7 linked regions of the Homo sapiens genome follow. The protein of the gene in region 1 purifies or fractionates together with the protein of each later gene. This does not show direct contact. Each region holds a gene or a part of one and is shown on either strand. Other genes may lie near its edges. The genes, in order: KDM4C, CA2, ALDH18A1, CSTA, RCC1, FBXO22 and SMCHD1.

Region 1 (4,961 bases):
ACATATTTCTTAACCGCTATGCTTCAGTTTCCACATCTGTAACAATGAGGTATTAATAGTACCTATTCATTGAATTATTATAAGTATTTATTAATACATGTGAAGCTCTGAAGACAGTGTGTAGCTCACATTACTGTTCTAAGTAAGTGTTAGGTTGCATATTTATTATTTTAGCATATCCAATTTACTTGTAAGGATGGTTGGGATCCTGACGTTACATGCACACATTTGGAAAATTCCCAGTTGAGTATACGTTAGCCAAGTTCAGAATTGTGTGTGGCCGGGTGAAGTGGCTCACGCCTGTAATCCCAGCACTTTGGGAGGCCGAGGCGGGCGGATCACCTGAGGTCAGGAGTTTGTGACCAGCCTGGCCAACATGGCGAAACCCTGTCTCTACTGAAAATACAAAAATTAGCTGGGCGTGGTGGCGGGCGACTGTAATCCCAGCTACTCGGGAGGCTGAGGCAGGAGAATCTCTCGAACCCGTGAGGCGGAGGTTGCAGTAAGCCGAGATAGCGCCATTGCACTCCAAACTGGGCGACACAGCAAGACTCCGTCTCAAAAAAGAGTGTGTCTGTGTGTGTAGCGGAACTTTGTTTTTAACAACTAAAGAAATATGGTGACCCAATAATCCCGTTAGCCTTAGCTCAATTAATCACATTCCATCTGTCCTCACAATGTTCACCCCAGTGAGAAACGAGTTCAAGCGCGTGGTAAGCGGTGTCGATATATTTTTAAAATTCTGTTATCAGTATAATGTAACAGAAAATTCAGCATATTAGCCCAACTTTGCTCACTGGTGTGAAGATATGCCCAATCTTTCTTAGCTAAGACGTTAGAGAAAACGCCACAAGGGACCCAGCTGGGAGCTCTGTAGGAAGTTTAAAAAAAAAATCATTCAGCTTTGCAAAACATCTGATGCTCAACCATCTGTCTTTGGCAGTACAGGGGCTTAAGGTCTGGTTGGTTCCTTCTGACACCTCGGAAGGCGGAGTTACAGAGGAAAAGCAACAAGTTGTAGGAAGTTAACTTATCTAGTCTCAGACGCTGGAGGCACCTGCATTTCTAGTCACTTCAGTTCTGGCCAAACTGTTATCAACTCTAGTTTCTGAGGGACCGCCAGCCCAGGATTCCTATTGGGGTCACCTTTGTGCCTCCCTATCTTAAGAGCACACTTGGGCGGGTCGGGGCGGGACGTGCTGGGTGTAGGTGACTCAACACCGGACAGTTTTGCTTCCAGAGGCTGACACGCTCCTGCGCGGTAGTTGTTAAAGGGTTGGGACACGAAGATACTCTTCGCCTATTCGGGATCTCCCATTGTGGGAAGGAGGCTCAGTGGTCCCGGCCACCGGGTGAAGGGAGAACGGGAACACAGCGCTGTCATCGCCGGAGAGCTGCGAGCCCCGACTTTCTCGCCAGGCTCTCCAGTACATTCCGAGGCTCCACCCCGGTAACGCCACGCTGACGTCCGCGCGTCGGAGGCCGCCATAGGTGCGCGTCGGCGCCCAGGAGGACGTGTGGCGCGTGGACTACATCAGGTCCAGCCCTGCGGGACCCCAGCCAGCGCTTCCGGGCAAGGTTCTGTGCACCTGTTTTCTCCTTCTACGCGAGTATCTTTCCCCTCCGGAAAGAATGGGATATGCCTGTGTCCAAAGGACAAGAAGATGCGCGCCAGCAAGCCTAAGTTAACCACAGCGCGGAAGTTGAGCCCAAAGCAAGAGCGTGCCGGGCACCTTTAAGCTGTTTGTAAGCCCACGTGACTCACCAAGTGCGGGCCCCAGCGGTCACGTGACGGCGCGCGCGCCCTCGCGCAGGGAGAGCCGGCGGTGCGCGCGCCTTCGCCGCTGCCTCCCACCCACCCCCTCGACGGGAGGGTGAGGCGCGGCGCAGTGATCGGGCGGCCGGGGTCCTGTGCGCGTGCGCAGCGAACAGCTGTCACCTAGTGCGGAACAAGTCTCCCAAATTTCCCAAATCTCCCTGGGCCGGAGGCCACTGTCTTCTCTTCCTCCTCCACCGAGTCGTGCTCTCGCCCCAACCCGCGCGCCAGGTAACCGCTTTTCCGGAGTCTGGGGGCCAGGGCGGGGGGAGGGTCCGGAGAGGTCTTCCCGGCACTGCCCCCCTCCGCGTGGGGCACGGGGGTGCGGGCGTCCGGGCGAGCGGCGACGCTGGGGCAGAGACGCTCCGTCCGTGACTGCAGCGACTGTCAAGCTGGGGAGGGAGCGGCCGGCCGCGGCCGCAGGGGAGGGATGCGGGGGCCGGTGACAGCCCGCTCCGGCCCTTACCGAGGTTCGGTACCCGCGCTCGCCGTTTTCCCGGGATCCGGAGTCGGGGTCGCCTCCTTGGGGCAGAGGAGCGCTCGGGCGGTCCTGGGATGCGGACCTCTTAACGCCGCCAGTCGGCTGTGGCGGACTCCAGGAAGGCCGGGCCTGGTGCACCCCTCGGGGCCCTCCCTTCCCTGGGAGTGTCACGACCCGCGGGGTGAGGGTGGGAGCTCCTCTCCTGACCACCCGTTGCAGGCAGTCATCCCGTCATTCGGGGTCGTCTTCAGCCCTCGCGGCTGTCCTTTTGGTGTTTCTTTCCCCCGGCATGGGGCCATTTCTTCCTGCAGTGCCTGGAGGAACCATGATGCGGTGTAGACGGCGGGTGCTTAAATAAATGCGAGTTGGATTAGGGCGCGTGGACTGCCAGGCACAGAACGTGGCGTGGAGTGGGGACGTGGAGGAGGGAGCCAGACAGGCCGGGGCTGTAGGCAGGAGCTTGGGGTTTTCCTCTGTGCTCCGCCAGTAAAGCCAGCAGCCGGGATTCAGATGCTTTCCGCGTGGACTTGATGCTGGGCTCCCCCTTTGCTGCGCGGTGCAAGCCTGCGCTGGCTGGCTCTGATTGTGGGCAATACTACCGGGAGGGGTTTTGTCAGGTTCCTTCTTCCGGAAGAGACAAGGTAAACTTTTTTTTGCGCTTGATAAACTAACCCCGAGAGGTGATTTATAAAGCACTGTTCGGAAATGTAGGTTAGAAAAGCAGAGTCACTTTTATCCTGGTGAAAGTTACTAGTAGGTTCCGGCCACTTAGGTTCACACTAAACTCTGCCCTATTTTCACCCATTTCAGTTTGCGGTATTTAAAAAAATGTCTAAATTCCGGGCAGCTTGGCTTTACTGTTTCTATGGCAACGGTGACTAATATTCTCATTTCGAAGTGTTGTGGTTGAAAACTAGTGGTTTTAATTTTTAAAGGTCCATTTTTTATTAGGAAGCAGTCGGCTCTGCTTTGCGATTATCGCTTGCTTTCTTACCTTGCTGGCCTCCGCGCAACCCGCCCATAGTTTGTTTTGGAACGGATTACACGGTTGTTCGGGTTTTTTAGGTGCTTTTTCTCCCAATTTCAGTGTTATGAAAAGTTTTCACATAAGCTTTACAGTATCCCGCAAACTTGGTAATACAGTACAATTTAAACCGAAGACTTATTTCTTTTTATTAACAGACTTTAGTCAGTTGCTTTTCTAAAGTTGAAAATCAGACCCGGCGCCGTGGCTCCTGCCTGTAATCCCAACACTTTGGGAGGCCGAGGCGGGTGTATCACCTGAGGTCAGGAGTTCAAGACCAGCCTGGCCAAAATGGCGAAACCTCGTCTGTACCAAAAATTCAAAAATTAGCCAGGCATGGTGGCAGGCGCCTGTAATCCCAGCTGAGGCAAGAGAATCACTTGAATCCTGGAAGTGGAGGTTGCCGTGAGCCGAGATGGCACCACTGCACTCCAGCGTGGGTGACAGACTGAGACTCCATCTCAAAAAAAAAAAAAAGTAAAAATATAAATAAATAAATAAATAAATAAATAAATAAAAGCTTTTAGTAAATGAATAGTCTTGTGCAACCATCACCACAATGAATTTTTGAATTTTTTTAATCCCCAAAAGAAGCTCTGTTCCTATTAGCTGTCATTGCCTAGTTCCCTCCAATTCTATCCCCTTCTGTCCCTAGGCAACCACTAATCTGCTGTCTGTCTCAATAGATTTGGCTATTCTGGACATTTTATATACATGGAATAATACACTATCTGGTCTTCTGTGAGTGACTTCTTTCACTTGGCATAATGTTTTTTAAGGTTCATCCATGTTGCAGCCTGTATCAGTACTTCATTCCTTTTAATGGCTAATATTCTATTATGGATACATCACATTTTGTTTATTCATCAGTTGGTAGACATTTGTGTTATCTCTGCTTTTGGCTGAGTAATGCTATGAATATTTGTGAACTAGTTTTTGTGTGGACGCGTGTTTTCTCTACTCTTGGGTATATATATATATATATATAATGTAATTGCTAGGTTAAACATCTGTTGAATGACTGCATGCGTAAGGAGGGATAGTTAGTCTTGGGTGATACTCTTTTTTATTTATTTATTTATTTATTTATTTATTTATTTATTTATTTTTTGAGACGAAGTCTCACTCTGTTGCCCAGGCTGGAGTGCAGTGGCACGATCTCTGCTCACTGCAAGCTCCGCCTCCTGGGTTCACACCATTCTCCTGCCTCAGCCTCCTGAATAGCTGGGACTACAGGCACCCACCACCATGCCTGGCTAATTTTTTTTTTATTTTTAGTAGAGATGGGGTTTCACTGTGTTAGCCAGGATGGTCTCGATCTCCTGACCTCGTGATCTGCCCACCTCAGCCTCCCAAAGTGCTGGGATTACAGGCGTGAGCCACCGTGCCTGGCTTGGTGATACTCTTTCAAGCCTTGAAGGGGCCTGTTGATCTTTCCCTATTCCACTGCCAACTTCAGTTCTCCAGTTCTCTAAAGTGGGGCTTTATTCTATGGTTAATGCTGTGTTTTCCTTTCCTGGATGTCTTTTTTTTTTTTTTTTTGAGACGGAATCTCGCTCTGTTGTCCATGGAGTCTCACTCTGTGCCAATGGCGCGATCTCGGCTCACTGCAACCTCTATCTCCCAGGTTCAGGCGATTC
Region 2 (4,200 bases), on another chromosome or scaffold:
TTCAAAAGCTTAATTTGTAAATTCAACTCACGCCCAGTGAACCACTTCTTTTACAAAGGACCTTCACATTTGCTTTTTATAACCTTTAATTGTGACATCATACTTAACGCTGCAAAACTTTCTCTACTGTCTCCAACTCCACCATTTGCAAAAAGTAAACGGACTCAAACTGGAGGATCCTGTTTTAACAGAAATTTAGAAATAAAATGTGTGCCTTCTGTCAAAACTGTACATTTATTTGTCTTAGAGTTATTGATGAAAACACTTGCTGTTATACCAAGTACTGTGTGGATGATTAGAATTAAAATGAAAGGAAAATTTTGATTTAAAATTATCCATATTTTCAATTTCCTGAGTAACCTTTATTGTGAGAAAAAGACCATTGAATAAAATCTGTCAGCTTTGATTATGTAAATCACTCACTGTGGCTTTGTCTCTTCGGCCTTAGCTTCACTTGGTTCACTGGAACACCAAATATGGGGATTTTGGGAAAGCTGTGCAGCAACCTGATGGACTGGCCGTTCTAGGTATTTTTTTGAAGGTTAGTTGATGACCCAATTCTTTTTTTTCCCTATTTTTAATAAAGAATGACCAGACAGAGTATTTGTAACATACAGGACATTCTACAAAAGAGCTTAGGAAATGCCTTTGTCCCTGAAATGTTTTCAAGTTTATCTCCTCCTTTCATATCTGCTAGTTGCAGTGGAGATGGAGGGCAGAAAGACAATAGGAGAGGTACTTATTTGGTACCTTTTGGATGTAAATGTGAAGAACATAAAGAGATCAACTTGGGTGACTGCTAGGTGTTTGTTTGTTTTCTTTTCATTTAACCTGAGGCTAGACAGTACTATATTATGATAAAGTAAGATCAGGTTCTGAAGAGGGGAAGGACAGTGAATTTCAGGCAACAGTGGGACAGAACCGGTTGAGCTGCCCTCTAAACAGTGGTAAAGGGGAATGGAGAAAGGTCTGGGCTGGAGATTTATGAGCTCTGATTCATATGTTGAGGTGGAAGCTACAGGTGTGTATGAAATCATCCAAGTACAGCACGAAGAGGGAGATGAGAAATCTGCCCAGGGAGCAATCCTGAGAAACTGCAAAATGTAAGGCCTTTACAAGGGGAGAGATGCAAATTAAACAACTTAAAAGGGGCCAGGTGTGGTGGCTTAAGCCTGTAATCCCAGCACCTTGGGACACCAAGGCAGGAGGATAGTTTGAGGCCAGGAGCTCAAGACCAGCCTGGGCAACATAGCACAATTCCATCTCTACAAAATTTTTTTAAAAATTAGCTGGGCATAAAAAACAAACTAACAAACAAAAAAACAAAACAAAAACAAAAACACAAAATTAGCTGGGCATGGTGGTATACACCTGTAGTTTCAGCTACTTGGGAAGCCAGGGCAGGAAAATCACTGCAGCCTAGGGGTTGAGGTTGCAGTGAGCTATGATCATGCCACTGCACTACAAGCTGGATGACAGAGCAAGACTCTGACTCTAAAAAAAAAAAAAAAAAAAAAAAAAGCGAGAGTCAAGAGAGATTTGGGTTGCTGGAAGGCGTAGGGAAAGCCAAAGAAGAAAATAATTTTTAAAAAGAAGGGAAGACCATAGTGTAAAGTCCTACAAGGAAATCAAGGCAAGCCCTTGAGGAGTATCCTTTGGCAGTTAGAGGTCACTGGGGACAATTGAGCTGGTGGTTTCAGGACTACTCTCTGAGTGGAATTAGAGGCGAGTTGAAGATTCAGTGAAAGTAGGCAAGTCTATGGTGTCAGTGTCATCAAGCCAGTACTGATGGGGGTCATGTATGAAGTGGAGAATTTGGGCTCACTATTTGGATGTTTTCTAATAGAGCTACCCAAATAAAAATAAAAACTGGTACAGTACCAACTGGGTGATAGTATCTTGCCCTTTATGTTTTTCTTTAGGTTGGCAGCGCTAAACCGGGCCTTCAGAAAGTTGTTGATGTGCTGGATTCCATTAAAACAAAGGTAAATTTGAATTTTCTGCCACCTCCTTAGGGTACCAATTTTCAATACTCCATTGGTTTTAGAAATTTCTTTTGATCAAATTGCACAGTCTCAATGACATGTGGTGTTTGGATGAGCAGTTAGTAAAGGTAGAATATTACTTAAATATTTAATTAACGTTTCTTTCAACAAAGTTGATCCTAATGCTAGCATAATTCTAAGACTTGTATTTATTTAATCTTGCTCCCCCATCATTTGGACATCCATATGTAAGAGTCAGAGAATCTTATGCCTGCAAGGAGGTTCAAAGGTCCTCTAGTCAAATTATTCACTCATTCATACAGCAGATATTTGTTAAGTATGTACTATGTGCCAGTCGCTTTGCAAACTAGTAGACACAATGGTGAACAAGATAAACAAGGCCCTGTTTCATGGAGATTTCTATTCTATGACCTCTTTGCATTCATCCATCCTGCATTTAAATCCTCTCTGCAGCATAGTTGTGTTGAGGTCGTTGAGCATCTGTTTAAACACTACAGTCACTTCCGGTGATGGGGAACTTATCACCAGGGGCAGCCCTGGCTTTATAAAGCTGATCTTCACATTGAAGCAGCATCTATCCTCTGAAATGCTCACTCACTGGCTTGAGCCCCTTGAATTCATAGAATAAACCTGATCTCTCTTCCAAATAACTCTACTCTGTCTCTACTTTGTTTTTTCACCTACCCCAAACTAATTATCTTTAGTTTCCTTTAACTATTCTCATATGATATAGTTTTCTCTCTTTGCCACCACCTTGTCATTCTTCCAGTAAATCATTCCTGTTTGCTTGAAAAGTGTAGTGTCCAAAACAGAATGTAGTTATTTGATTCTGACCTAGAGCAAGAAAATCACCTCCTCATCAGGATACCATATTTCTGTTATTGCAACTTGAAGTCACCTCATTTTAGTGGCAGCAGTCTCACTTTAAATACTGGGTGTGATCAGCTAATGACTTAATGGGGAATGTAAGGGATCATTTTAGATAAAAGGCCAAGATGAAAAATGGACATGTGAAAATAGTTTTTTTTTTTTTTTACTACGACTTGCCACATATTTTCAAGTTGAATGTCTTCTGTTAATTTCTCTTTATTTTGTTTGCCAGTGAATATAGAACCTCTTTTTTAAAAAGTGTTTTTGACCATCAGAGGGGAGTATACCTATTTGTGTCTGCTGCTCTCCTACCTTCCTCCTACTCTGTCAATGTGATAGTTTGAAGCTGCGTATTTGCCTTGTTCTAGGGCAAGAGTGCTGACTTCACTAACTTCGATCCTCGTGGCCTCCTTCCTGAATCCTTGGATTACTGGACCTACCCAGGCTCACTGACCACCCCTCCTCTTCTGGAATGTGTGACCTGGATTGTGCTCAAGGAACCCATCAGCGTCAGCAGCGAGCAGGTTTGTTTTGTAATGACAGGTCTGTTTACGGGTGGAGCATTTAGTCAAGGCAGAAGACCTTGGCCTCCAGAGTGAGAGAGAACTGAGATTTAATCCTTCTCCTGCTACTTCTTGCTATGGAAATAGTGCCTTTGATGGTGCCTAGCAAATAAACAGCGTTCAGTAAATCTTTGTTGTTATTAACTATAAACTTAGTTCGTTTAGTCTCTAAAATTGAATAGTCATTGTAAGGATTCAATGAGAAAGATGTCTGTCACCTAATAAATGCCTTTTTTTTTTTTTGCCAGTTATGAGGAAACTAAGGCTTAGAAAAGTGAGAGTTCATATTCAAGGTTACGCAGGTATCAGTGAGTTACCAGCCTACTACTCACTCACATAAGGGCTTTCTGCTATTTTATTTATATCAGAATGCATTTCTGAATCCTGACAGATGAGAGTCATCCCTTGGAGAACATGTATCTATTAAAACTCACTCCAGGTTGCTTTAGAGGCTTAGAGCAGGTATTCTTACATTTCCAATAAAATATAGTGTGTGATCGTCAAGTGATTAGTGCAGCTTCTAAGTCACTGATGAGCAGCCACTAAAGTGGATACAAATGAGTTTTTCCTAGACTTACCTCTTAGCGCACAGTTGAAATGTAGAAAGTGAACATTCCTTAGGATTCACAAGAGGATGGATCCTGAATAATTTAAGGATAGCTTTAGGAGCCAACAGTCTTGAAAATGGTAACTATGTGAGTAGTGGTAGTGTGATTTAAACCTACAAAAATGCTGAATAATAGAGGTTTAGAGCTGCAATG
Region 3 (4,200 bases), on another chromosome or scaffold:
ATTGGCCATTTTTGGAGGCCACTAGAGAAGCTACTCATATTGAAAATGGATGAGTAAAGGGGAAGAGACACACATTTGTCCTGCTTTTCATAGACAAACTGTACCTCAGGGTAACCAAATAGTTGGTAAAGGAGAGTTTCCCTTTTGGAATTATTCCAGATTATAAATGACGAAGGAATCATTGAGTTAGAGTGTCAGCATTTTGCATCTCCTAATGGAATAATGGATCTTGGCAATGATCATCAACAGATGCTAACATCACAAAAAGAAAGATAACCAGGCATTATGTATCCCCTTGATGAACATGTACACCACAACTTATAAAGACTTGTTGGGGAAAAAAAAAAAAGCCTTCATACCAAACAGCAGTTTATAGGGTATACAAAGAGCAGTATTAATACCATAAGGACACAATTGGGAAAATGTAGGCTGGGAAATCCTAAAGAATAAACAACTCAGTTTAACAAAAAATTACAAGGGGGAAAACTGATGGAGAAGGGAACCCATGAATGAAAGAGACTTGAGAGACACTTCAATTAATTTGTAATGCAGGGTTTAATTTGCATCTCAATTTGAGCAAGGTAAAAAAAAATTGGAAAAATATGAACACTGGCTATTTGATATGAAGGAAATCATTGAAATATTCCAGATAATGGATTTGTGGAGAGAGAAAGACATATAATTATATATTATATATAATATATATGATTATCTTTTAGCAGTTATTACTGAGCTATTTACAGATGAAATAACATGTCTGTTGCCTGGAATTTGTATTAAAACAATGGTGAGGGTATAGAGGGGTTATTGGAGAGTGGGAAGTTGGCCATGAGAGATAGTTGGTGAAACTGGGTGGTATGTACATGGGGATTTATAATACTATTCTCAGCACTTTGGTTAAGTATTAAATTTTCTTTTTCTTTTTCTTTTTATTTATTTTAGAGAGAGGGTCTTGCTCTGTCACCTAGACTGGAATGCAGTGGTGTAATCATAGTTCACTGCAGCCCTGAACTCCAGGGCTCAGTTGGGATCCTTCTTCAGCCTCCTGAGTAGCTGGGACTACAGGCACATGCTACTTGGCTATTATTTTTTTTAATTTTTCATAGATATGGGGTCTTACTATTTTGCTCAGGCTGGTTTCGAATTCCTGGCCTCAAGCAGTCGTCCCACCTCAGCCAGCTGAAACTTTCTGTGATAAAATATTATTGTCGGGGCCAGGCACAGTGGCTCACACCTGTAATCCCAGCACTTTGGGAAGCCAAGGTGGCTACTCAAGGGGCTGAGGTCAGGGGGTTGCTTGAGTCCTGGAGGTCAGGGCTACAGTGAGCCATGATTGTGCCACTGTCCTCCAGCATGGGTGACAAAGCAAGACTGTGTTTCAAAAAAAAAAAAGTTATTATTGTTTTAAATCATGGTTTATCATAGCTGTTTGTTAAACAGCTGGACCAGTTAAAAGGTTTCAGACATCAGAAGGAAAGGACAGTTTAGGAATATTGACTTTATTACATCTTGAGTCTTTAATTTTTTCATGTAGGTCTGCTTAAGGTAGGAAACAAAGTGACCGCATTTGGTCTTGGGCAGACAGAGCAGAACAAGGTCAGCATGTGCCCCTGGTGTAGGCAGAGGCAACCCATAGGATTAGACATGCCACCAGAACAGCCTCCTTTACCCGGGTTAAGCCTTAGAACCTGAGAAGCCATCTACTGAGTCTGCGTTGCATTTCCTACCTGCGGACTTTTATTCTGGGCTTCATTTCTTGGAGGAACTAGGCCTTCTGCATTACACACTCCCTGCAAATATTAGGTTGGCACAAAAGTAATTGTGGTTTTTGCCATTACTGTCAATGGTAAAACTGCAATTACTTTTGCACCAACCTAATACAGTCAAGTCCTATAGATGTCAAACTTGGCTACACACCAGAATTTCCTCATTAAAAATGTCTTACTTAGGCCAGGCATGGTGGCTCATGTCTGTAATCCCAATGCTTTGGGAGGCCGTGGCAGGAGGATGGATTAAGACCAGAAGTTTGAGGCCAGCCTGGGCAACATAGTGAGACTCTGTTTCTACAAAAATGTGTTAAAAAAGAAAAATTAGCTGGGCATGGTGGCATGAGCCTGTAGTTCCAGCTACTTGTGAGGCTGAGGCAGGAGGATCACTTGAGCCTAGGCAGCCAAGGCTGCAGTGAGCCACATTCATGCCACGGCACTCCAGCCTGGGCGACAGAGCAAGACTCTGCCTTAAAAAAATTTTTTTCTTAGGGTGTTGTTGTTGTTGTTGTTGTTGTTGTTGTTGTTGTTGTTGTTTTTGAGACAGCATCTCTCTCATTCTATTGCCCAGGTTGGAGTGTGGTGGTGCGATCATGGGTTACTGCAGTCTTAACCTCCCTGAGCTCAGGTGATCCTCCTACCTCAGCCTCCCAAGTAGCTGGCATGCACTACCATGCCTGGCTAAATTTTGTACTTTTTGTAGAGATTGGGTCTTGCCATGTTGCCTGGGTGGTCTTGAACCTCCTGGGCTCAGGCATTGTGCCTGCCTTGGCCTCCCAAAGTGCTGGGATTACAGGCATGAGCCACCATGCCCAGCCAATTGTTTTAATTAAAAAATAAATTAAAATGTCTGATTTTTGTCTGCCACCTGCTAAATAGAAATTTGAGACAGGATGTAGGAATCTGTGTTTTTACCAATCTGGCTGATTCTTCCAGAGCCAGCCACATGCTGGTTCATAAACCAGCATTTGGGATCTACTCGATAGCCCACCCTACCTCCATCCCTTGTGAAGAGATGAAAGAGACAGTACGGTAACTTACAGTCCCCTTTCCTTTCTCAATGCCCAGGTATCAGTGCTGCAGAATCAGGGCAGAGAGATGATGCTGGTGACCAGTGGAGCCGTAGCCTTTGGCAAACAACGCTTGCGCCATGAGATCCTTCTGTCTCAGAGCGTGCGGCAGGCCCTCCACTCGGGGCAGAACCAGCTGAAAGAAATGGTGAGTGCTGCTTCCCCACACATTGAAATGGATCTTCAGGTCTTCTTCCCTCATTCCCTACCACACCTTGTCTCATTGGTATATTACAGGCAATTCCAGTCTTAGAGGCACGAGCCTGTGCAGCTGCCGGACAGAGTGGGCTGATGGCCTTGTATGAGGCTATGTTTACCCAGTACAGCATCTGTGCTGCCCAGGTGAGAGGCTGGGCTTTGAAATGGGTGTGGGACCTGTGAGGGTGGTTGTTGTGGAACAAAGGGGTCTGGAGCCAGACTATTGGAATATGGTGTCAGCTTCATCACTTGCTACTTGAGATCTGAAGAAAGTTTCTTTTCCTTTTTGTGCCTCAGTTTCCTCATCTGAAAATGGGGATAATATCAGTGCCTATTTCAGATAATTTTTGGAAGGGCTCAGTGAGAAAATATATGAAAAGCATTTAGTATAGTGTTTGGTACATAATACATTGTCAGTAAATATCAGTTCTTGTTACACTAATAACTTAGGATTCCAAGTGCTAACACTTCTGAAGACAGAGAAGTTAAATGTCTTTATTTCACTGGCTTCTTTGATTTCAGGTGGCTTGCTTCTCTTTGCACCTGGTTGGTTGCCTTTTATAGCAGATATTTATTAAGCTTTGAAGGGAAAGAGGAATGCTGGTGATTGGTTGGTTTTTCACTCATTCAGCAAATATTTATTGAGCACCTATGGTGTACCTAGCAGTCTTGGGCATTGGGGATACTGTGGTGAACAAATCAGACATGATTCCAGTCCTCATGGGACTTACGAATTTTTGGTGGCTACCCCTAAATGTTCTAGAACCTTCTTTCTACATTGTTTCATTTTTACCTAAATCTCCTGAATTTTTTTGAATTATATTCTTAATCAACTGTACAACTACACACTAGAGACATCTCAATAACAGTCACTTCAGGAAACAACTGAAAAAAAAATCTAACTCCCAAATTATTTTATTTTGAAATTCCTTTACCTGTAAAGATGTAAAATAGCTGTTATTTTATATTATGGATATTATTTTACATGTACACTACATGCACAGATGTTATTTTACACAGGTGATATTGTTATATATACATATATTGTTTCAGGTTTTGCTTCTTCATTTCCTGTTACTTTTTTTTGTTTCTCCATCATTTGCCTGTTTGTACCCACAGTGATGTTCTGGTATTACACCAGAGTGTCCTCAAGTCAGTGAGGTAAA
Region 4 (4,200 bases), on another chromosome or scaffold:
GCCTCTCCCACTGTCCCACACCCAAAGAACCTGTCATTCAGCCACACCAGAATCCTTCAGGCACCTACCTTCCCAACTTCATGAGAACATGCCCAGGCCCACTGAGTCTCTCATCCAGCCTGGACCCCATGACAGGAGGGTAGCTTCAAATACTCCTCCACTCATGATGATTTCCTTGACCCTGGGAGCTCCTGACATTCTAATTCTCAATTAAAGGTCACACCCACTGCCACCACTTTCTATGCAGCTACTACTGTTCCAGAATCAAAGAACTTTGCCAAAGCGAGGTGCAGAACCACAGAAAACTCACCATTACAAACCTGTGGATTAATGCTTAACAACCCGGACAGGACCCAGGGCTGCCAGAACATTCTTGCAGTCATATTTGTTGGTCTTTTTCTAGAAACCCCACAAATGTAAATCTCTCTTCAGTTGTTCATTGCCTCCCACCCCCATGGTCCCTCCAGCAGGATGTCTCAGTTCCTACTCTTCTTAGGCCAGCTGTCCCCAACCTTTTTGGTACCTTTGTGGAAGGCAATTTTTCCACAGATGGGGTGGAGGGGATAGTTTTGGGATGAAGCTGTTCCACCTCAGATCATCAGGCATTATTTTCTCATAAGGAGCACGCAACCTTGATCCTTTGCATGCAGTTCACAATAGGGTTCCCACTCCTATGAGAATCTAATGCTGCCGCTAATCTGACAGGAGGCGGAGCTCAGGCCATAATGCTCACTGGCCCACTGCTCCCCTCCTGCTGTGCAGCCCGATTCCTAACAGGCCATGGATGGGTACTGGTCTGCAGCCCAGGGGTTGGGAACACCTGTCTTAGGAGATTGCAGATCTCTGGTAAGAAAATGCCCCAGCTGACCCTATCTCTTGCTGGATCTCATTCCTCCCTAGACTCTATTCTCCTCTCTTCAGCCAGTCCTTCCTCTCTTAGCCAGGTGACTTCATTTCTTGCATCCTCAATGCCTTGTCCCATACTTCCTTCTTCCTTCAAAACATACTTAGACAATAAATGTCCACAAGTCACATCTTACTGGCCCTACTGTCCTTTCATGTTACTATTCAAACTCTCCTTCCTTACTCTCTAAATCTCCCCCAAATGTAATTCATCCACTTTGCCATCAATATCTTTCTATCTATTTTCTATTAAATTAGGCACAGTCCTATTGTTTCTGTAGAATGACTACAGATTAGGGGAAAAGCCTGAGTGTTGGGTGCCTCATGGCTCAAATCCTCAGATCTCAGAGAATAAACACCTCACCAAGATTCATGCTCAGTAGCAATGAGAAATGCTTGAAGAACTCTGGGTTAAATGCATTATACCAGGTGCTTCTCCCTGGTAGCCTCCTCCCCGGCTGGAGACCAAGCGACAAACCTCCACTGTATTCCTTGAGCTCCCGTCACCATCACGCGTGGCAGACTGAGAAAGGTGAAGGCCAACTGCATTCAGCAGGAGATGTGTCCGTTCACCGCCAGTCTCCCACCACCGTTCCCAGCTGGCCTGCATCCTCCTAGTGCCCATCCTGGGGAGTCTTTCAGCACCAAGCTACCTTCTGAGACTTAAGTTTCACTGACAAGCTCCCCTACTCTGCCCCTTTCCCTGCTCCTCAGCTCAAATCTCATCACTCAGGTCCATGTCATCTAACATTAAACCATGCAAATCTATTTTACTGGGAAGAGGGAGGGAGGCTGCAAGTTACAAGTAGAGTGAACCAGAAATCAAGGTCCACAGTCTGACAGGTGCCAGAACACTTCAAGAAACAAACCAGATCTTTTAAATCCCCTCTCTCATGGAAAATTCTGCATTTGTGGATTACACAGATACGATGGAAAAGTTAAAGATTTGGATATATTTCTAGGACAGATAGAAATAAAAACTTAGGGCCAGGCATGGGGGCTCACCCCTGTAATCCCAGCACTTTGGGAGACCAAGGTGGGTGGATCACCTGAGGCCAGGAGTTTGAGACCAGCCTGGCAAACATGGTGAAACTCCATCTCTCCAAAAATATAAAAAATTAGCTGGGAGTGGTGGCAGATGCCTGTAGTCCCAGCTACTCATGAGGCTGAGGCAGGAGAATTGCTTAAACCCAGGAGGGAGAGGTTGTAGTGAGCTGAGATTGTGCCACTACACTCCAGCCTAGGTGACAGAGCAAGACTCCATGAAAGAGAGAGAGAAGAAAGAAAGAAAAGAAAGAAGAAAGAAAGAAAGAAAGAAAGAAAGAAAGAAAGAAAGAAAGAAAGAAAGAAGAAAGAGAGAGAGAGGAAGGAAGGAAAAGGAAAGGAAAGGAAGGAAGGAAAAGGAAAGGAAAGGAAGAAAAAAGGAAGAAAGAAAGAAGAAAGAAAGAGAGAGAGAAAGAAAGAAAAAGAAAGAAAGAGAAAGAAAGAAAGAGAAAGAAAGAAAAGAAAAGAAAGGCTGGTTGGCTTAGGATACGTGCTTAAAAAGAAACATGACTGAAAAGCAGAAGGAACACAGATCAGATATATAAGTTATCATGCAAGGACTTTAAAATAACTATGTTGAATAATTTTTCAACTTTAAGCAGTCATGCTCAACTCATAGCCTTACATTCTCCATTCATAAAATGAGGTTTAAATGGATACTTTGGGGGTTAGTGTAGAGATTAACTCTTTCAAACTCAGCTCCTAACTTGACTGGTGCCAAGTACTGGCCATCCCTCCTTTGGAATTTTGAAAGGCTTTGGAAAGGGACCCTAAGACAATAACCTGTTTCCTTACTCTACTTCTCTGTGCATCCTTTCTCCGCTCTCCTGCCCCTAGCTCTTCCCACTTCTGGTTTGTCCTCACTATTTGTCTTCTCCCTTTCTCCACTTTGAAATTTCATTTCCATCTCAACAGAACAATCACACTTTTCCCGTCTATTCTCAAGGTTACAGGAGAACTGAGTGGTGGTCCGTGGAGTGTTTGGCCTTTCAGAAATGGTCTGAGAACTCACAGTTTGCATATGTCTACATCTTTGAAAACAGTTCTGGTACTCAAACTGAGGCATCAGTAGTAAAGGTTCAAAACATCTGCCCAGGGAGGATTGTTTGAGTCCGGGAATTCGAGGCTGCAGTGAACTATGATCACGCCACTGCACTCCAGCCTGGGTGAGGGGGAGATTCTGTCTCTTAAATTTAAAAAAACAAAAAACAAAAAAAACCTGCCCACTGATAGGAAGGACTGCCTTGGGAGAATCCTAGATGGACTGGAGGCCTGATTGAAGTTGTATGGACATGCAATGCTTTCATGAAGGGCATAAAAGCAAGTTCTCAATAAACAAGGTACATTCAACACAGAGAGTTATATCCTTTTTCCTCCAAAAGACAGAAAAGAATTGGGGTTGAAGGACAAATCCACAGACATAAAGACAACAGGAGATAGGCAAGTACCACCTCAGAAATACCAATAAAATTTTGGAAGTTGGAAAACAGATGAACAATGGAAAATGCTGAGCAGTCTAAACAGAAGCTAAGCCCATAGAGGGGAAAGTCTAAGCCAGAAGCAAGCAGATTCACACTGCAGAACGTCACAATGGCGCAGGCATGAGCAACACCAAAAAGTCGTAGCCAGGAGTAAGGTCTCAGACCAAAAGCAAGAGGACTGATCTGTATGAAGGACAGTGAGACCTCCCATAGTTCCTTCTCCCTCACTGTCCTCCACCCCGGCAGAAGACGAGCTTTACACTTAGCAGGAACTGAGTCAAGAGCTCATAGTAGACTCTTGCATATCAGGCCCAGCTGAGAGTGGGAATGAAGCACTGTACAGAAAGTTGATGGGCTCAGTAAAAGTTTACATATTGAATTTGGGACTGTCTCCCTTCTCATGCTGGGTTCGGGAATGCTGACATTTAAACCCAACCCATATCCCTCCATGGTAGACAGAATGATGGCCCTCCAAAGATGTCCATGTCCTAATCCCTGGAACCTGTGACTAGGTTCCTTTACACAGCAAAAGAGACTTTGCAGGTGTGATTAAGTTAAGGCTCTGGAGATGGAGAGGTTATCCTGGATTATCCAGGTAAGCCCATGCAATCACAGGGTCTTTATAAGAATTATACCCAAATACTGCACTCTAGTTAGTATATTGTTTTCCACAGGGGTATAGGTCAACAATTCTGAAATTATTTTATGTATATGCTAGAACTGAGAAAATAGGCGAATACATTGCAAATAATAAGAACCAGGATTCTTCCTC
Region 5 (4,200 bases), on another chromosome or scaffold:
TAATTAATCTGTGGGTGCATCCATTATTCTGTTCTTGGGATACATTTTGAGAAGTGGAATTGTTGGGCAATTCCTCTTAACGTATTTCTAGAGTGTTTGATAAATATTGTCTGATTGGCCCAGGAAAATGTTTGCCATTTCTCATATGTAGTATTTGACTGACTTTCAGGACAGGAAGATGTCACCCAAGCGCATAGCTAAAAGAAGGTCCCCCCCAGCAGATGCCATCCCCAAAAGCAAGAAGGTGAAGGGTAAGTTGGCCTTGGCCTCTTTGTGGGTACAGGTGGCCCCTTGAAACCCTAAGAACCCGGGACTGGGCTCCTTTCTTCCTGAGGCTTGAAGCTGAAGGGTGTGGATGTGCAGAGACCCCACCCAGCTGGAAGGTTTCCTGTAGCTCATTGAATCCTACCCTCTGGGAATCACAAAGTGGGCAGAAACTCCTCTCAAAGCACTCAGGCAGCACTGGCACAAAAAAAAAAAAAAAAAAACTAGACCCTAGGGCTTCACCCCAGGCAGTGATGCATTATGGTTAGGACCACTGACTTTCCGACATGGGTTCAAGTCCTTGCTCTGCCACTTTCTAGCTGCTGGGCAAGTCACTTAATCCCGCAGTTTGGATTATCAACTTCTTAAAATGGCGGCAGCCAGAGCAGCGTCACCCTCTCTGGGCTGTGTGAGGATGAGATGAGATAATGGCCTGGCAGCATTTGAGGGAGGTGGCTGTGGTTTCCTCTGTCCTGGGACCCCGGAGGGGGACAGGGAGGAGAGAAAAGCCAGCACCAAACTGGGAGGGGAAGTGTGGACCCACGCTCAGACAGTGTCTGTCTTTTGCAGACACGAGGGCCGCTGCCTCCCGCCGCGTTCCTGGCGCCCGCTCCTGCCAAGGTGCCTGCGGGCCGAGCCCTCCTGACCAGAAAACCCGACCAGGTGGCTCCGCGCCCGGGGCGCCCTCTGTGCTGCCAGCGCGGGCTCCTCAGCGGTGGCCACATCCTCGGGGGAGGGGCTGGGCGCCATTGGCTGCCCGGGGCTGCGGGTTGGGGGGCCGCCTTTGGCCCACAGAGAGCCCCGGGCGCGCACCTCCCGCAAATGCCGCTGTCCGCTCTTCCTCCCGCCCCTCCTGCCTCTCCACTGGATGGTGGAGGGAAGAGTCCGTTTCTGCAGTGGATTTGCCCGGGAGCTGAACTTATTCACTGGCGGACGGCTTGGGCATGGAGGAGGGCTTGGATGGAGACTGGGGATTGTTCTCTGACCCACGTAGTCTCCCTTGCTTTCGGTGCAGATTCTGCTATTATAATTAGCTTTCTGCGGGGCAAGGTGGCTCACGCCTGTCAGAAGATCGAGACCATCCTGGCTAACACGGTGAAACCCCGTCTCTACTAAAATACAAAAAATTAGCCTTGCGCGGTGGCGCGCGCCTGTAGTCCCAGCTACTCAGGAGGCTGAGGCAGAGGAATCGCTTGAACCCGGGAGGCAGAGGTTGCAATTAGCCAAGATCCACCACTGCACTCCAGACTGGCGACAAAGGGAGACTCCGTCTCAAAATAACAATAACAATAATTAGCTTTCTTTTCTTTTTCTTTTTTTTTTTTTTTTTGAGATCAAGTATCACTCTGTCGCCCAGACTGGAGGCGGCAGTGGCACGATCTTGGCTCACTGCCACCTCCGCCTCCCAGGTTCAAGTGATTCTCCTGCCTCAGCCTCCTGAGTAGCTGAGATTACAGGCTACTGTTGGCAAGGCTGGTCTCTTAACTCCTGACCTCAAGTGATCCGCCCGCCTTGGCCTCCCACAGTGCTAGGATTACAGGTGTGAGCCACCGCACCCAGCCCTTCTTGCCCTCTCCACCAAGATTCATTTCACAGTATCCAGTGTCTCCTTGTTTCCCTTTCTCCCCTTTCACGTGAATAATGTGCTCAGTTCTTAATCTCCACAAAAATCCTGTGAGAGAGGTACTTTTGTTGTCCCCATTTCACAGATGACAAAACTTAGAAAGTTCATACTAACAGTCTGTGGCAGAGCAGGGGCTTCTGCACAGGTTTGTCTGATCCCAGAGCCTGTGACCTCTCCTCGCTGTCGTCATCCTCTACACTCAGGGTCTATCTTCTTCACCCTTCAGTCTCACACAGGTCCCACAGCACAGAACCCGGCTTGGTGCTGACACTAGGCCAGGGCGACGTGGGCCAGCTGGGGCTGGGTGAGAATGTGATGGAGAGGAAGAAGCCGGCCCTGGTATCCATTCCGGAGGATGTTGTGCAGGCTGAGGCTGGGGGCATGCACACCGTGTGTCTAAGCAAAAGTGGCCAGGTAGGTGTTGGGGACTGGCACAGGGTTGGACAAGGCCTGGGGTTGGGTGGCTTGGGGCAGGGCTTTTGAACCACGCATGTTCACTGTGGAAATGGAGCTGGCTAGTCAAGTGGGGAGTGGCCTACATGAGAATGGACTGCGAGGCCAGACGTTGCATTAATGAGGGCATCCTGGGCACAGGTCTATTCCTTCGGCTGCAATGATGAGGGTGCCCTGGGAAGGGACACATCAGTGGAGGGCTCGGAGATGGTCCCTGGGAAAGTGGAGCTGCAAGAGAAGGTGGTACAGGTGTCAGCAGGAGACAGTCACACAGCAGCCCTCACCGATGATGGCCGTGTCTTCCTCTGGGGCTCCTTCCGGGTAAGGCTGGGTCTGAAAGTCTGCATGGTCCCTGAAAGACAGAATTAATTGGCGGGGCCCCAAAGATAATCCACTTCCATGCCCCCATGGTACTTACTGGTGGGGAGATGAAAGCCCACAGGTAGAGCTGAGGCCCAGACCCAGGACTCTAGCTTCCTCATGTGGGCCTGTCCACGCCACTGGCTGCTTCCTTGAATCCGATGTCATCAAGTGTCTGTCCTGGGAAGTGAGTGGGTCAAGGATGTCCCTGGGTTGAGGCTGATCCAGGAGGCCTGCTGTCTTCACCCATCTCCCTGACTTCTGTCTCCCCCTCACCTTGCCAGCACTGCCTCTTCCACACTTCCCAGAGGCTTGGATGGGGCAAGGAGGTGTGGAGGCAGGGATTGTCGCATCTCAGAGTTTCCAAGGTACAGAGGAGTGTAGTTGAAAAAACAGATTGTGGGTTTTTGTTGTTGTTGTTGTTGTTGTTTTTGTATTGTTTTGAGATGGAGTTTCACTCTTGTTGCCCAGGCTGGAGTGCAATAGCGCAATCTTGGCTCACTGCAACCTCTGCCTCCCAAGTTTAAGTGATTCTCCTGCCTCAGCCTCCCAAGTAGCTGGGATTACAGGCATGCGCCACCACGCCTGGCTAATTTTGTATTTTTAGTAGAGACGGGGTTTCCCCTGTTGGTCAGGCTGGTCTCGAACTCCCGACCCCAGGTGATCCACCCGCCTCAGCCTCCCAAAGTGCTAGGATTACAGGCGTGGGCCACCACACCCGGCCTGATGGGTGTTTCCTTATCACATCTATTTTGAAATTTTCATGGAGAATTTCAAACACATGAAAGTAATCAGAATTGGGCTGGGCGCGGTGGCTCATGCCTGTAATCCCAGCACTTTGGGATGCCAAGATGGGCAGATCACGACGTCAGGAGATCGAGACCATACTGGCTAACATGGTGAAACCCCGTCTCTACTAAAAATACAAAAAATTAGCCAAGCGTGGTGGCGGGTGCCTGTAGTCCCAGCTACTCGGGAGGCTGAGGCAGGAGAATGGCTTGAACCCGGGAGGCGGAGCTTGCAGTGAGCCAAGATCGCGCCACTGCACTCCAGCCTAGGGGACAGAGCGAGACTCCATCTCAAAAAAAAAAAAAGAAGTCCGGGCGCAGTAGCTCATGCTTGTAATCCCAGCACTTTGGGAGGCCGAAGCAGGCTGATCACCTGAGGGGTCGGGAGTTCGAGACCGGCCTGACCAACATGGAGAAACCCTGTCTCTATTAAAATTACAAAATTAGCTGGACATGGTGGTGCATGCCTGTAATCCCAGCTACTCGGGAGGCTGAGGCAGGAGAATTGTTTGAACCTGGGAGGCGGAGGTTGCAGTGAGCCGAGATCGCGCCATTGCACTCCAGCCTGGGCAACAAGAGCGAAACTCTGTCTCAAAAAAAAAAAAAAAAAAAAAAAAAGGAAGTAATCAGAATATCAGAATTATATTTTTTTCTTTTCTTTTCTTTTCTTTTTTTTTTTTTTTTTTTTTTTTTTTTTTTTTTTTTTTTTTT
Region 6 (4,200 bases), on another chromosome or scaffold:
GTAGAGAATTGGAAATGGACCAGAGGCAGTTTCCCAGAATAGGTCATTATTTGGTGTTAGTAATTGGTCATTCACGCATCTGCATACCCTTTGTTTCCTTAAGTAACTCTCCTTTCTGGTAACCACCTTAGGTTTGTCAAGGTGGAAGTCATGTGGTCAAATCAAATGGAAACACAAGTGTGTTAGGTATTAGATTCATTTTCCTGTCCCCAAAGCACCCGTTTGGTAATGCTGGCAGAAGACATACATGCGGCCAACAATCATAGGAAAAAAAGCTCCACATCACTGATCATTAGAGAAATGCAAATCAAAACCACAATGAGATCGTATCCCATACTAGGCAGAATGGCTATTAAAAAGTCAAAAAATAACAGATGCTGGCAAGTTTGTGGAGAAAAAGGAACACTTATACACTGTCGGTGGGAGTGTAAATTAGTTCAGCCATTGTGGAAGATAGTGTGGTGATTCCTCAAAGACCTAAAGACAGAAATACCATTTGACCCAGCAGTCCTATTACTGGGTATATATTCAAAGGAATATAAATTATTCTGTTATAAAGACACATGCACATGTATGTTCATTGCAGCACTATTCACAGTAGCAAAGACATGGAATCAACCTGAATGCCCATCAGTGATAAACTGGATAAAGAAAATGTAGTACATATGCAGCCATAAAAAAGAATGAGATCACGTCCTTTGCAGGGACATGGATGGAGCTGGAGGCCATTATCATTAGCAAACTAACACAGAAACAGAAAACCAAATACTGCATGTTCTCATTTATAAGTGGGAGCTAAATGATGAGAATACATCGACGCAAAGAGGGGCACAACAGACACTGGGGCCTACCAGAGGGTGGAGGGTGTGAGGAAGGAGAGGATCAGGAAAAATAACTAATGGAGAATGGGCTTATTACCTGGGTGATGAAATAATCTGCACAACAAACCCCCATGACACACGTTTGCCTGTGGAACAAACCTGAACATGTATCCCTGAACTTAAAAAAAAAATCAAATTGATAGTCTATAAACAAGCTGCCAGAGGCTCCAGTGAAACCTGGGAGCTGTGGGCAGAGCAAGTAGGCTGTCTCTGTTACACTCTGCCACCTCCTAGCGGTAGCAGCTTTTAGTTCCTGTGTCACAGAATTGAACATTTTCCTGCTTTGCAAGGAACTTTCAAAGGCTAATTCGCCTTTACTCTCACCTGCTTCCGTGGAGGAGGTGAATAAAGCCTGTATTTCAGTGATGTAGTAGTTTCTTAGGCTGCTGTAACAAAGTACCCCAAATTTGGTGACATAAAACGAGAAATTTATTCTGCACAGTTCAGGAGGCCAGAAGTCTGAAATTGAGATGGCAGTAGGGGTAGTGCTACCTTGGGAGGCTGTAGGGGAGAGTCTGTTCTTTTTCTCTTCCTACCGCTCCAGTTTCTGCTTCTGTGGTCACACTGCCTTTTCTTCTCTGTCTCTCCTTTGTACATCTTTCATTATGAGGACACTGTCATTGGATTTAGAGCCCACGTGGATAGACCAGATGATTTAATCTTAAGATCCTTACTAACATAGCGAGACCCCATCTCTACCAAAAAAAAAAAAATTTTTTTTAAAGATCCTTTTTCCAAATAAGCTTACATGCATAGGTTCCAGAGGTTTGATGTGGATATACCTTTGGCATGGGCAGGGGGCACTGTTCACCACACTATAAGTGGTTAGCGCCTTTTCTCTCCTTTAAAAAATAAAAAATCTGTAAATTCTCACTGCTGCTAGCACAGCTCTGTGTAAACCAGTGTTTTTTTTTTTTTGTTCCCTACTGAGAGCCAGCTTGCACCTTGGTCTACCAAGAGTTGCTGCTCAGTACATAGCTGCTTCATTATTTGTGTTGATTGCATTATTTATTAACACAAATAGCCATTTAGTTTTTTTAATAGAAAAAATAATTAAGATTTTGCATAATGTTTGTAAAAAATGGAAAACTTGATACAGAGATCGAAGAGGATATAAAATAAGATAAAAAATAAAAAATGGAAAATTTGATAGCTTAAGCCACTAAATTGCCCTTAAGGTGGAGTGCAAGTCAGTAACATTTCATTTTGCAGCATGTATAAAATAATTTCTGTTTTAAGGCTGTCTTTAACTGTTGCTCTTCATTTCTCTGCAGGTCTTTTAGATAACCCTGAACTTCGTGTGGTCCTTGTCTTTGGTTATAATTGCTGTAAGGTGGGAGCCAGTAATTATCTGCAGCAAGTAGTCAGCACTTTCAGTGATATGAATATCATCTTGGCTGGAGGCCAGGTGGACAACCTGTCATCACTGACTTCTGAAAAGTATGTCTTGTGTGCTTCTGATTTCGTCTGTGAATGAAGGGAAATGGTCTCAGGTTTTGTCACTTTGGGGTTAACAATTTAAAAAACGTGTTTAAAGAATTATTAAGATAATAGTTCATTCCATTTTGTAGTAGACATTGGCTAAGGGGCTTACTGAACATAATTCTGCTTACGGTTGAATAATTACATTTTTATATATATTGTCCTTCAAGAACTTCCTTGAGTCACATTCTCCTTAAAATTTGACATTGCCTGTTGATCTTTCCTTTGACAGATGTGGTACTCTGTGTGACCTCAATGTGTCACCTCCTTTCTAGTTTCCTCCTTTAAAGGAAACACATGGTTAGAGTGTATCTTTATGGCAAAACTTCTCAGAGCTTCTAATATGCCCAGTGCTGTGGAAATCTGGAAGGAGAATAGCATTACCTGTGACAGTTCCCAAATGTGTTTGGTCACAAAACTTTTTTCCACAGAATGTCTTGCAAGTCGTACTGGTTTTTGGAAATTCTGTATTAGATCTTTTGAAAGGCTTTTTCAAGCTTAAAAATTGTGGATCTTTTTTGTTACTAAGGCTTTTGCTTTCAAAGATAAAAATATTTGCTCTTCTGTCTTGGGAGCCATTACTTCCTTTCCATCTTGAATGAAAATACATATCATTTTGAGTTTGAAACAATTAGGTGGACATAAATATCATTTGTTTCCAGCAGGAAAATCAGACCCTACCCCACCCTCAATGCTTGTAAACACTACTATTTGTTTCCCACTCTGTTTAATATTTGCATCCTAGAGTGGTGACATGGGGACAGACTGTTGCAGATCAGTATCTATAAGAATAATGTAAGTCATCCTAGTTATAGTCTCTCTTCTGGTTATCTCTATGAGCTAGATCTGGGAAAATAGCTAAAGTTGAGGTCCCTGGACTGCCAGGGAGGAGGAAGAGAGGAAGGCCAAGTACGTTGAATCCCAGGCAGGATATCAAACACTGGATTTTGTGCATACATACACTGAATTCTTGGTGGCTATCTAAGTTATTTCCCCTCTTGCCTAATTTTTCCTGTGTCTTTGCTATTAACTTAAATTGTGTACGGATAGGGCAATGGTGATTCAACATACAGTTTACCTTTGAAATGCAGATACCTCACTCAGACTTATAACATCTGAGGTGCTAGCTTGTAAGTGTAGCTATTTGTATATCATCTACTTTTTATACCTAATAAGAGAAACACCCCCCACCCCAATCATTACTCTTCACATGACCCATTAATTTTAATGTGGTCTTCATACTCTGTCAGTGGTTAAGAGAAACCATTGAGTAAATGAGGGCTCCATTTTAATAAAGTCCAGATAACCCAACTGACCCAGTGCCCCAAAAGGAAGATGTATAATTCTTTGAGGCAAGATTGACAATGTATATTAACAATTCTGTACCAAAGAGGAAATGTGATAAAGTTTTAAGAGCAGCAGAGGACTTCAGAAGACGGATTTTGCCCCTCACAAACTTGTTTTACTACTAGCTAGCCTTATTACTTTAGTCACTTAACCTTTTTGCGTCTTAGTTTCTCACTAATCCAGTGACTCTTGCCCATTTTATAGATTCAGATGTTGGAAGCATGATACAATACTTGTTTATCCCCTAGTGGATGTTCACTATATTATGCTTTATTACTTTTATCAATGTTGTATTTTCTTTTGTAAGGATATTTCATTTTTTAAAAAAACCAGGCAAATATAAACAAAAACAAAGCATGAGTTTTTACCATCAAATTAAGCTGAACTCTAGACTCAAAGCAATAAACAAGACAAAAAAATAACATAATCATATTTTCTAGTGGACTAGACATAAAGCTAAAACTTCTAGAGTTAATAGGTTTTTAAAATT
Region 7 (4,096 bases), on another chromosome or scaffold:
AATTCATTAGATATGCTTAGCAATATATGATACTATGCAGTAGATTCCATTGTTTTCTTGAATAGAGGCTTCAGTTTTCTAAATAATTTTCCACTTATAAAGATTAAAAATTAGTTCTGTTAAAAATATGTATCATCTTCTATTTGGAGATAGTTCAGGGAACTATTAGAAAATATTTACATATACCTGAATTTTTAAAATCTGTAGCTATATATGTCAAGGTGCTCACTGTGTTCATCTCTACATGAATGAGATTATGAATATTAAATGTTTTATTTTGCTTGTCTTTGTTACTTTTCTGTAATAAGCATTATAATTCCTGTTCTTAAAATAATAAGTTCATTTAAGGAAAAGGGGGTGAAAGGAAAAATCTGCAGAATTTAGGTCTGAGATAATACCATTTCAAAGCACTGTGATACAAATTACTTATATATGTTATATACTGTGTGTGTGTTAACTACTTTTATTTGGGGGCTTGTTTTGCATACATGTGAAGGAAATGATTATATATAAGGATTTAATTAAATCTGTTTATACCAAGAATTATATTTAAAAGAATATGGTTTCATTGGATATTTAAGCATTCAGGTGTGATGAGGGAATTCAGGGAAAGGAAACCTTTGGTACATAAAACTTTTTTTTCTTTCCCCTTTGACCAGGATTATAACCAAAACAGATGTATGAGAGGTGACAGAGAGAAGAGGCCATTGGTCTCAGTAAGAATGCCCTGCTTTCTGCATCTCTGTTTCAGAAGACCAAGAGGGTGACTTACCAGACTGAGTATTTCTGGGGACAATACAAGTACCTGGGCATGAATTTCCATTTCGATTCAGATGGGACTGGAAACAACCATTCAATTTTATGAATCTTACTGGACATTATGGATTTACTGGAATTATTCCAGACATTATGCCCTTTGGTTGTCACTACCTTGCAAATGTGTAAGAGGAAAATGTGCTAATGTGGCAGTGACTGTAAAACTGGCACATGGCATTTATTAATCCTGAAGAAAAGTACATGTACTATTTTTCAGTATAAATATAATGAACATGTCAGAACTATTTCTTGAAAACCTTTTTATTACTTTTGCGTGAATTTATTTAACAAAGATGTTTTGTCTTTTGTGTAAGGGAGGTTCTAGAGGCTAGATGTTTAATTGTAAATATGTGAGGAAACTCAATGCAGAATTCAGGATAAAAATTTTAAAAGCACAGGTATTTGGGAATTGAAATGTTAAGATACCCAGAACAACATTAAATCAATGAGTGAACTTGTGACAGTGGTAGCATTTCAAATTTCAAAAGACTTATCCTGTGTGTGTGTGTGTGTGTATATATATATATATATATAAATATATATATATAAAATATTCAGCAGCACCAAGTTTTATAACTATTGTTTGTTTGACTTTATTAATACTAGAATATGTAGTCTCAGCCTTAATTTTACATTTACATTATTTTGTAATTTTTTATTACTATTTTTAAGGGGTTAAAGAGAACATACATTCTCACATTAGTGTACTTTCTGGTAGAAAGTTGCTGCAAAAACATTTGAAATGTATATTAACCTAATGTATGTCATATATATGTCTTTGTGTAAGTTCAAGACTATTGATCTGTGAAGTTATTTTGTAAGGACATACATTTGGTAAGTAAGTTTGTGTCCCAGGAAATGTATGTGTTTTTAAACCCTTTCTAAATATGCAGGCCATTAATAAATAAGATTGTTTCTTCCCTACTGAATAGATAAGTGTTTTTCTTTTTTAAAATTGGAAGCTTCATAAAAGTTATCTTGTTAAAAAACGATGATGATGTTAACCTATCTATCTTTATAATTGGAAATTATTTAAACTGTTTGTTGTTACAGAAGAAACAAAATGGTAATTACAGAATTAGCTGTGGGGAAGATTGGCTCCCATGGTACTACAGGTTGAGTATCCCTTATTCAAAATGGTTGGGACCTGAAGTGTTTTGGATTTTGGTTTTTTGTGGGGTTTTTAAATTATTATTTTGGAATATTTGCATTATATTTACCAATTTAGCATCCCTAATCCAAAAATCTTTCATTAGAAATTGGAAATGCTTCAATGAGCATTTCCCTTATGTGTCATATCTGCGCTCAAATGTTTTGAATTTTGGAACATTTCTTGTTTCTGACTTTTAGATTAGGGATACTCACCCCGTACCAATATTTGGAGTCCTTAGACATTAGATTATATGAAAATGATTGATTGATAGGTAAGAAAGGTTAAAGAGAAATGACTTTTTAGGAACTAGACTTGAACGTATAATTAATATGTGGAACTAGTTTGCTTTTATAATTCATTGTATCAAGAAGGAGTCATGTTTTAAATCCAAGGCATTGAGACTATCTAGAAGCAAAAAAGTTGGTTTTAAAAATTCTTTTTATTAGAAGTGTGTTTAAAAACATGTCTTTTTTTCCCTTGAGCGACAGTGGCCTCACTACATTGCCCAGGCTAGTCTTGAACTCCTGGGTTCAAGCAGTCTTCCTGCCTTGGCCTCCTAAGTAGCAGGGATTACAGGCATGCACCCACATGCCAATTTTTATTGCTTAAAATGGCGAGTTCTATGGATATTATCTAGCCCCAAGCCCATATCTGTACACTTTTGTTCATTTTATAATACCAGAAAGAATGTTCTATCAGTAAAAGAAGGTTTTTAAGTATGAATCTCCATTTTTGTGGAGTTTTTCTACCCTGTAAAAATTAACTTTGTGGTTCCCAGTAATTACAGTAAGGAGTTTTTCTATATTTTCACAGTTGGATTTATCTAAGGATATTTCTCAGCATATTAAGGAATCCTTTTCTACATTTGAGCAAATACTGAGGTTCATGTTGTACCAAATAATAATAAATTGCTTTTGTGTTTAATATGTAACACGTAAGAACAATTGAAATTTTCTTCTAAGATTTAATACTAGTCTTTTAGTATAAAGGAATGTAACTGGAGAAAAAAATTAATGCTACAGCCATTTATCCTGTGTTATGTGTTATATAATCTGAAATTTGTCACAATGTTACAATCAGGAAGTTTTTTTTCTGGTTTCTTCTTCCAAAGGAAAATAATAGCCTACTTGTATTTTGAAGTAACTGAAATAAAACTCTCTCCAAGCCTTTTTGCACATTACGTTCATCAGTTTTCATGTGTACATTTGGCCAGGCCTATGGTAAAAATAGGCTCAATTTACTTAACATTTTTATAGGGTTTTTGGTATAAGATTCTTTACAGAGACTAAAATTTGTTGCATATATAACATTCAGATTATTTTAAGTGAAATTGGCTCCTATTGTTAAATATTAGTGCTAAGGAAAGTTCAGTCTTCTAAACTGTCTATACTTTGGCTCTGTGACTTGATTACTTTATAGTCATTATGAAATTGATGGGGTTAATTCCATTGTATTTTTAGTATAGAATTTTCAAATAATACATTTTAGTAAAAAAATTGAATGTTTAATTTTCATACTGTGAAACTGGTGAAAAATATTAAAAACAACCATTTAAAACTTCTGGAAATGGTCCTGAGGACAAATGGCAATGAAGAAACATCTATTCAAGAACATTTACAAAAATTCAGTAAGGAAGATGAGAATCTGTGGTAGTTTGAACCAAGACTGACTACTCACTTCCACCTCCAAGCTCAGCAAGCAGACTAACGCAGCCAAAAACGCTGGGTTCCTTATCCCACCATCTCCCAGCCAGAAATTTTTTTCCCGAAAGGAGCGAGACTGTAGTGATTCTTGTCCTGCCTTCAACTGCCTTTTGCTAGCACTAAGTCCTGGGTCAGTGTGGCCAGGTGAGAGCCGTCTTCTCCCCACCAGGCCACAAAACCTTGAACACATGTGCTGAGATTGCTGGGGCCTTGATAACTCTCTGGCTCGTGAAGTAGGATTCTACCCCAGGAAAAGCAAGCCAAGAGGATCTCAGGCTACTGCCCCCTTCCATTGCACTCAGCTTCTAGAGCTAGAATGCCAACTCAAGCTTGCCATTGTCCCCACCTCTAGCTCCAGATCCCTGGCTCAGAGATTTTTGCCTGCAAATGAGGTAGGATGAAAACAAAACAGGTAGCTCTTAAT

What was found.
Region 2: the proteins of KDM4C (region 1) and CA2 purify together in Homo sapiens (affinity purification with mass spectrometry; one large-scale study listed by BioGRID and IntAct). This does not show direct contact.
Region 3: the proteins of KDM4C (region 1) and ALDH18A1 purify together in Homo sapiens (affinity purification with mass spectrometry; one large-scale study listed by BioGRID and IntAct). This does not show direct contact.
Region 4: the proteins of KDM4C (region 1) and CSTA purify together in Homo sapiens (affinity purification with mass spectrometry; one large-scale study listed by BioGRID and IntAct). This does not show direct contact.
Region 5: the proteins of KDM4C (region 1) and RCC1 purify together in Homo sapiens (affinity purification with mass spectrometry; one large-scale study listed by BioGRID and IntAct). This does not show direct contact.
Region 6: the proteins of KDM4C (region 1) and FBXO22 purify together in Homo sapiens (affinity purification with mass spectrometry, with the first as the bait; one study listed by BioGRID). This does not show direct contact.
Region 7: the proteins of KDM4C (region 1) and SMCHD1 purify together in Homo sapiens (affinity purification with mass spectrometry; one large-scale study listed by BioGRID and IntAct). This does not show direct contact.

The regions. Positions count from the first base shown.
Region 1 is NC_000009.12:6,756,157-6,761,117, forward strand, and holds the start of KDM4C (lysine-specific demethylase 4C), read left to right. Parts: upstream 1-1,816; 5' UTR 1,817-2,047; intron 2,048-4,961.
Region 2 is NC_000008.11:85,473,876-85,478,075, forward strand, and holds part of CA2 (carbonic anhydrase 2), read left to right. Parts: intron 1-448; coding exon 449-541; intron 542-1,922; coding exon 1,923-1,985; intron 1,986-3,244; coding exon 3,245-3,400; intron 3,401-4,200. UniProt on the Homo sapiens protein: Catalyzes the reversible hydration of carbon dioxide. Can also hydrate cyanamide to urea. Stimulates the chloride-bicarbonate exchange activity of SLC26A6. Essential for bone resorption and osteoclast differentiation.
Region 3 is NC_000010.11:95,636,071-95,640,270, reverse strand, and holds part of ALDH18A1 (delta-1-pyrroline-5-carboxylate synthase), read left to right. Parts: intron 1-2,834; coding exon 2,835-2,984; intron 2,985-3,073; coding exon 3,074-3,178; intron 3,179-4,200. UniProt on the Homo sapiens protein: Bifunctional enzyme that converts glutamate to glutamate 5-semialdehyde, an intermediate in the biosynthesis of proline, ornithine and arginine.
Region 4 is NC_000003.12:122,331,341-122,335,540, forward strand, and holds part of CSTA (cystatin-A), read left to right. Parts: intron 1-4,200. UniProt on the Homo sapiens protein: This is an intracellular thiol proteinase inhibitor. Has an important role in desmosome-mediated cell-cell adhesion in the lower levels of the epidermis.
Region 5 is NC_000001.11:28,529,689-28,533,888, forward strand, and holds part of RCC1 (regulator of chromosome condensation), read left to right. Parts: intron 1-169; 5' UTR 170-178; coding exon 179-251; intron 252-834; coding exon of another isoform or gene 835-927; intron 928-2,114; coding exon 2,115-2,302; intron 2,303-2,482; coding exon 2,483-2,662; intron 2,663-4,200. UniProt on the Homo sapiens protein: Guanine-nucleotide releasing factor that promotes the exchange of Ran-bound GDP by GTP, and thereby plays an important role in RAN-mediated functions in nuclear import and mitosis.
Region 6 is NC_000015.10:75,927,729-75,931,928, forward strand, and holds part of FBXO22 (F-box only protein 22), read left to right. Parts: intron 1-2,155; coding exon 2,156-2,321; coding exon of another isoform or gene 2,322-2,358; exon of another isoform or gene 2,359-3,139; intron 3,140-4,200. UniProt on the Homo sapiens protein: Substrate-recognition component of the SCF (SKP1-CUL1-F-box protein)-type E3 ubiquitin ligase complex that is implicated in the control of various cellular processes such as cell cycle control, transcriptional regulation, DNA damage repair, and apoptosis.
Region 7 is NC_000018.10:2,801,869-2,805,964, forward strand, and holds the end of SMCHD1 (structural maintenance of chromosomes flexible hinge domain-containing protein 1), read left to right. Parts: intron 1-659; coding exon 660-684; coding exon of another isoform or gene 685-767; 3' UTR 768-3,149; downstream 3,150-4,096. UniProt on the Homo sapiens protein: Non-canonical member of the structural maintenance of chromosomes (SMC) protein family that plays a key role in epigenetic silencing by regulating chromatin architecture.